2 linked regions of the Homo sapiens genome follow. The protein of the gene in region 1 interacts with the protein of each later gene in a pairwise test. Each region holds a gene or a part of one and is shown on either strand. Other genes may lie near its edges.

Evidence for each region.
Region 2: the proteins of ZNF431 (region 1) and ANXA7 interact in a two-hybrid assay, tested with the Homo sapiens proteins (one large-scale study listed by BioGRID and IntAct).

Annotation. Positions count from the first base shown.
Region 1 is NC_000019.10:21,179,757-21,183,581, reverse strand, and holds part of ZNF431 (zinc finger protein 431), read right to left. Parts: intron 960-3,825; coding exon 1-959. UniProt on the Homo sapiens protein: Sequence-specific DNA binding transcriptional repressor. Represses target gene transcription by recruiting HDAC1 and HDAC2 histone deacetylases. Acts as a specific transcriptional repressor for PTCH1 during embryonic development.
Region 2 is NC_000010.11:73,386,285-73,390,109, reverse strand, and holds part of ANXA7 (annexin A7), read left to right. Parts: intron 1-1,695; coding exon 1,696-1,798; intron 1,799-2,326; coding exon 2,327-2,421; intron 2,422-3,825. UniProt on the Homo sapiens protein: Calcium/phospholipid-binding protein which promotes membrane fusion and is involved in exocytosis.

The sequences.
Region 1 (3,825 bases):
TTTCTCTCCAGTATGAATCATCTTATGTGTAGTAAGGTTTGAGGACTCATTAAAGGCTTTGCCACACACTTCACATTTGTAGGGTTTCTCTCCAGTATGAATTCTTTTATGTTTAGTAAGGGTTGAGGACCAATTAAAGCCTTTGCCACATTCTTCACATTTGTAAGATTTTTCTCCAGTATGAATTATCTTATGTTTAGTAAGGTATGAGAATCGATTAAAAGCTTTGTCACATTCCTCACATTTGTAGGGTTTCTCTCCAGCATGAATGAACTTATGTGTACTAAGGGTTGAAGACTGGTTAAAAGCTTTGCCACATTCTTCACATTTGTAGGGCTTCTCTCCAGTATGAATTATCTTATGTGTAGTAAGGTGTGAGGACCGGTTGAAGGCTTTGCCACATTCTTCACATCTATATGGTTTCTCCCCAGTATGAATTATCTTATGTGTAGTAAGGGTTGAGGACTGCTTAAAAGCTTTGCCACATTCTTCACATTTGAAGGGTTTCTCTCCAGTATGAATTCTCTTGTGTCTAGTAAGGGTTGAGAACCATTTAAAAGCTTTGCCACATTCTTCACATTGGTAAGAATTCTCTCTAATATGAATTCTTTTATGTTGACTTAGGTGTAAAAGCATGCAAAATGATTTGCCACATTTTTTACATTTGAAAGGTTTCTTTCCAGTATGTCTTGTCTTATGTCTATTTGCATTTAAAAATTTATGAAAGACTTTCACATATTTATCACATGGAAATATTTTGCTCTGGGTAGTTGTCAAACACTGGTTTAGCTCATTATAACCTTCTTTGTGCACCTTATACTCATCTACACTTGCGGAGCCTTTTCTTAACTGTAAATTCTCATGTTCACATTTGCCATATCTTCTCAGTATTACTTGTTGAAAAGAATCTTTTATGTCTTGCTCTGGCCAAAGGTCTTTGGTAAAATAAGAACACATAGCTGAAAGAAATACAAACAACAAATTATTCAACTTACTAGACTCTGATAAACATACTTTACAAATCTAACCTACATTATACAAACTACATAAACAAGATGCCATAATAAAATACCATAGGCCCTAAATCCTTCATAGACATATAAATCTAATAAAAATATACTGACCAAAATATATTTGAGGACAACTTATAAACAAGTGTGTAAAGTTCCCCAGGTGAGCACACAGGTGAGTACACAGGAATGCAAAGACACAGAAGAAAAAGAAAAGTCTGTTACATTTACCCAACACAGTTCTTCCTACTCAACAATACAACATAGTGCCTTTCAAAGTAAATTGCTAACTTTTCGTTTCTTTTTTAATAAACAAGTAAAACACTGGCACATACATCTATATTACTTGCTTCTAGGGGCCCTTCCAGAAACTGGTCTCCCATAACATAAAGTGCTGAAAGAAATGGTGGTATATTTTGGAATTACAGTTTACTTCTGCTGAGACCAAAGGTAAATGTTACAGCAACAGAGAGACTGCAGTACCACAGACAGGGAACAGATACAGCAAATGACTGCTGATTAAGATGAAACAGAAACTCCTTTAACTAAAAAATAAACACAAAATTTTAGACAAGACACATTCAAAGAACATGTTTGAGAGTCTCACAGGATCTCAAACCAAGATAATTGTTTTCAGACTATGCCAGGACAAAGCTACATTATAAACAATGTGACAGGTAGCTATATTTAATGTCCAAATATTAATCAAAGATTACAATGAATACAAAATAGGGCAAAATCGCTCCACCAAAATTATAAGATTTTCAGAAAGAAACCATAAAAAAGATGTATACATTAATTTTAAAAATTTAAAATAAATTGAATACTCAATGAGTAAAATAAGGACACAGACAACTATAGAAAATCAGAAAAAATGAGAATAACAAAAATATTTAAAATATCCAAAAACAGAAATTGTAAAGGAAAATATAACTAAAAAATTCTGAAAGAAAAAATAATGTCAAAATGAAGAAGCTCAACAAATACACTAGGATACACATAAAGATATTTATAACAAACACATATATAAGCACAATTTCGAAAGTCACAGACAAGAAGAGAATGGAGCTGCAAGATAAAAACGACATGTCATTTACAAGCATAGTCTTATGAGATAGCCGGTGAACTGTCAACAAAAACTTTGCAGGCCAGAAGGAAACTGTGTGATATAGTCAAAGTCCTGAAAAAAATAGCTATAAAGTGAGAATAATACCATCAGCATATCTGTCCTTCCAAGTAAAAAGAAAAAAAACCTTTAAAAATAACCAAATACTGAAAAAGTACATTGGCTTTTCATATGCCTTACATATAAAAGATGCTGAAAACCGTTGCTGCTACTGAAAATAACATGATTCAACAAAACAACACATCATATAAAAGACATTATTCTCTGGGAAAAAAAATGCACATACACAAAAATGGAATTTCTTAGCATTATAATAATAGTGCAAAAAATATTAATTATTCTCTAAAATTTGAAAGGTACAAGAATAGAAATCATTATAAACATTTGTTAGCAAATATACAACATAAAATATACAATTAGCAACATCAATGACAAATTTGAAGGCAGATATAATGAGAAAAAATTTTTGGATGCAACTGAAGTTCTTTTTTTTTTTTTTTTCTTTTGATATGGAGTCTCACTCTGTCGCCAGGCTGGATGGTGCAATCTTAGCTCACGGCAACATCCGCCTCCTGGGTTCAAGTGATTCTCTTGCCTCAGCCTCCCGAGTAGCTGGGACTACAGGTGTGCACCACCATGCCCAGCTAATTTTTGTATTTTTAGTAGAGATAGGGTTTCACCATATTGGCCAGGGTGGTCTCGATCTCTTGATCTTGTGATCTGCCTGCCTCGGCCTCCCAAAGTGCTGGGAATATAGGTGTGAGCCACGACACCTGGCCTGAAGTTCATTTTTTACCAGATTAAAATACATTGTTGTATCTTTTAGAGGTTTTATATAATCCCCAAGGTAACCCCAAGAATACGTTTGCGTAAGTACACAAAACAAATGAGAAAGAAGTAAAAGCATACCAAGATAAGTACAACAAAGACACAAAGACAGAAAAAGAGAAAATGAGGAACAAAGATACAAGAAGCAAATACAACAATTAACAAAATAACAATAGTAAGTCTGCATAAGTGGAGAAAAATAAAATTCTTTTCAGACAAGCAAATGCTGAGGGAGCACATCACCACCAGGCCTGCCTTGCTAGAGCTCCTGAAAGAAGCACTAAGGTTAAGAAGAAAAAACCATTACCAGCCATTGCAAAAACACACTGAAGTACAAAGATCAATTATGCTATAAAACAACTACATCAACAACTCTGCAAAATAAGCAGCTAGCACTACTTGGACAGAATCAAAATCACACATAAAAATACTAACCTTAAATGTAATAGGCTGAATACCTCAACTGAAAGACACAGAAGGGCAAGCTGGATAAAGAGTCATGACACAGTTTGGGACCAGCCTGACCAACATAGTGAAACCCCATCTCTACTAAAAATACAAAAAATTAGCTGGGTGTGGTGGTGGGCGCCTGTAATCCCAGCTACTCAAAATCCCGCAACTACAACGAAACTGAACAACCTACTCCTGAATGAATTTCCTGAATGAACAACTTGCTCCTCTTTATTTCTGGGTAAATAATACAACTAAATCAGAAATCAAAAAATTATTTGAAACCAATGAGAATGAAGAGACAATGTAGCCGGGCGTGGTGGCTCACACATGTAATCCCAGCACTTTGGGAGGCTGAGGCGGACAGATCACCTGAGGTCGGGAGTTCGAGACCAGCCTGACCAATATGGT
Region 2 (3,825 bases), on another chromosome or scaffold:
GTGTATATGTGTGTTTTCTGCAGTGAAAACACTTATTTTACAACAGTAATCTTTATTTTAGGTCAACATTCAAACATACAAGAAATGTGTTGTTACAATTAAAATTTTTTTAAAAAGTAGTGGAGCATCATCTTCATCCCATCCCTCTTAAGCCCTGACTTGAACACCCTAAGAAACTTCTTGAATTATTCTGGGCTGGCCGCACACCTGTAATTCCAGCACTTTGGGAGGCCAAGGCAGGGGGATCACTTGAGGCCAAGAATTCGATACCAGCCTGGGCAACATAGCAAGACCCCCGTCTCTACAAAAGTAAGAAATTAGCTGGGCATGGTGGCACATGGCTGTAGTGCTAGCTACTCAGGAGGCTGAGGCAGGAGGATTGCTTGGGCTCAGGAATTCAAGGTTACTGTGAGCTATGTTTGTGCCACTGCACTCCAGCCTGAACAACAGAGTGAGAGCCTATCTCTAAAAAATAAAAAATTGGGGGAAACTATTGAATTATTTCATAGCTTTGTATTTTAAATTGTTTTATCTTTTAATTTTGACATAATTTTAGACTTGCAAAATAGTACAAATAATTTGTATATACCCTTTACTCAGATTCTCCAAATGTTAACTTCCTACATAAACACAATGCAATGATCAAAATCAGGAAATAACATCGATATAGTACTGTTACCCAACCTACAGACCTTATTTCAGTTTCACCAGTTGTCTCAATGATGTCCTTTTTCTGGTTCAGGATCAAATCCAGAATGCAATGTTGTATTTATTGTCATGTCTCTTAAGTCTCCTTTAATCTGAAATAGTTCCTCAGTCTTTGTTGTTCATGCCCTTGATGCTTTTGAAGAACACTGTCAGTTATTTTATAAAATATTTCTTAATTTGGGTTTGTCTGATATTTTCTCATGGTTAAATCCAGGTCATGCCTTTTTGGCAAGAGTACCACAGAAATGATTTTGTGCCCCCAGTGCATCATATCAGGAGACACTTATTATTGACTTATTCCATTACTGGTGATAATTAATTTTGATCATTTAAGTTGGTGCCTGCAAGGTTTCTCTGCTATAATGTTATAGGTTATACAAATATCCTGTTTCTTTATACTTTTGCCACCTAATTTTAGCACCCACTGTTGATTCTTGCCTGAAACAGTTACTACCATAGTATTTGCTAAATGGCAATTTTTAATTTTCATATAGATTTATTTCATGTATAATAATCAGGGTCCATATAGGAAATTAAGAGAGATTACTAAAATTATATTGCTGGTTTGAAATCTCACTGGGCATTCATGTGCTACTTCACTAAAGCCATTTTATATTCTTCTGTTTTTAAATCAAACATTGTCGCTCATCTCACACCATTCAGGGATCAGTCTTCTTTTTTCTTCCTATTCTACCAAAAAGGAAACTATAGTAAGATTGTGACTTTAATTTCACAAGTTTGGCCATCTTGTCTCCTGGAAGTTTGGTGTCTGGCTATCTGTTGGCAGGAGAAAAATCTGTCCTGAAGGGGGATAGGTCTTTCCTGTCTGTTCCATAATGAGCTCTGGTAATAAAATGCTCATATCCTTGCCTTAAAACCCAAACATTGGCCTTCTTACTTAAGATTGATGTCTGGGGAAGTCTTTAAGTTTCCTCATTAGAAACTTACTGGAAATGCTGACACGGATTTTATGCCTTTTATTTTCAGCCTGCCACAGTGACTCAGGTCACTCAAGGAACTATCCGACCAGCTGCCAACTTCGATGCTATAAGAGATGCAGAAATTCTTCGTAAGGCAATGAAGGGTTTTGGTAAGGAAAACAAATTTTTGTCTTTTTTAATAAGTTAAAGTAATCAGTTCTAAAGTAAAAATAAACCTTATCTCATAAACCCAAGTTTATGTGTCAGCCTGGGTGCGCATACCTGGATTTAATCTGATGTCTAGTGCCTTGTAAGCATTCTAAGAGATGACCTCAGGCTGGGTGTGGTGGCTTACACCTGTAGTCCCAGCACTTTAGGAGGCCGAGGTGGGCAGATCACCTGAGTTCAAGACCAGCCTGGCCAACATGGCGAAACTCCATCTGTACTAAAAATAAAAAGTAAAATAGTTGGGCATGGTGATGCATGCCTGTAATCCCAGCTTCACGGGAAGCTGAGGCAGGAGAATTGCTTGAACCTGGGAGGTGGAGATTGCAGTCAGCCTAGATCACACCATTGCACTTGCACCCCCAGTCTGGGTGACAAACTCCGTCTCAAAAAAAAAAAAAAAAAAAAAAGATGACCTCAAGCAGCACCTAGCATGTACTTTGTCCTTACTTAAACATGTGTGGTTCTTCCAGGGACAGATGAGCAGGCAATTGTGGATGTGGTGGCCAACCGTTCCAATGATCAGAGGCAAAAAATTAAAGCAGCATTTAAGACCTCCTATGGCAAGGTATGTTTTTCTTTCCTGGAATGAGCACCAGCAGTGGCTGGTAGACTCTGCATTCATGTCAGATTGGATACTATATTTTGATTAGTACCTGTGGTGCAAAAGAGGGACAACTAGACTTTAGAGACCTCAAGGGTACTGTATTCCCTATTTCTGTTTTTTGTTTTGTTTTGTTTTGAGATGAAGTCTCGCACCAACATCCAGGCTGGAGTGCAATGGTGCGATCTCAGCTCACTGCCGTCTTTGCTTCCCGAGTTCAAGCAATTCTCCTGCCTCAGCCTCCTGAGTAGCTGGGACTACAGGTGCACAGCATCATGCCTGGCTAATTTTTGTATTTTTAGTAGAGACAGAGTTTCACCATGTTGGCCAGGCTGGTCTCTAACTCCTGACCTCAAGTGATCCGCCTGCCTCAGCCTCCCAAAGTGCTGGGATTACAGGCGTGAGCCACCATGCCTGGCCTATTTCTCTTAAAAGGCTTTTTCATTCTAGAGTAGTCCTTGATCTCATAATCATACCTTACCCCAGTCACATATGTGATAGACATTCAGTAGAAAGTAGATCACAACTACAATCATGATCAAGAGGATGGTTCTCAGTCTTCTGCCTGTTACAGTGGGATTCAAGGCTTATTACATAGCCCTTGTTTATTCTTGGTCCTGGGCATCGCCTTCTGCTTCTCTCCCTTTCTCTAAACGTGTCCTATGTTAAAATTATATGGACTGAGCGTGGTGGCTTACGCCTGTAATCCCAGCACTTTGGGAGGCCAAAGCAGGAGAATTTCTTGAGGCCAGGAGTTCAGGACCAGCCTGGGCAACATAGGGAGACTTCATTTCCAACAACGATGACAACAAATTATATTAGCTGGGCGTGGTGGCGTGTGTCCATAGTCCCAGCTGCTTGGGAGGCTGAGGTAGAAAGATTGCTTGAGCCCAGGAAGTCAGGCTGTTAGTGAGCTGTGATTGTGTTACTGCACTGTAGCCTAGGTGACAGAACAAGACGCTGTCTCAAAAAAAAATAATATGGAAATGCTTGCCATTCTCTGTACACGCCATGATCTTTTATGCTTCTGTGTTGTGTACATGCCATTCTCCTGGCCTTGAATACCTTTTCTTTTTTTCATGGCAAACTTCTTTAAGATTTGGCTTAAATATCAGCTACTCTGAAGTTTCTTTCATTAGTCTGGACAGAATTTAGCTGCTTCTTAATACTGTAGTCCCATAGCACTTTGTAAAACCTCTGTTATTACTAATCTCACGGCCCACCCCCAAAAACTGAGCTCCCATAGGACAAACCATGGTCATAGTCATCTTTGTATTACAGTACCAAGTATATAATGGCAAGTAGCCACTTAGTACTTGTTGAATGGATGATCAGTTTCTAAATCCAACAAGATTCTATGGCTAAAAA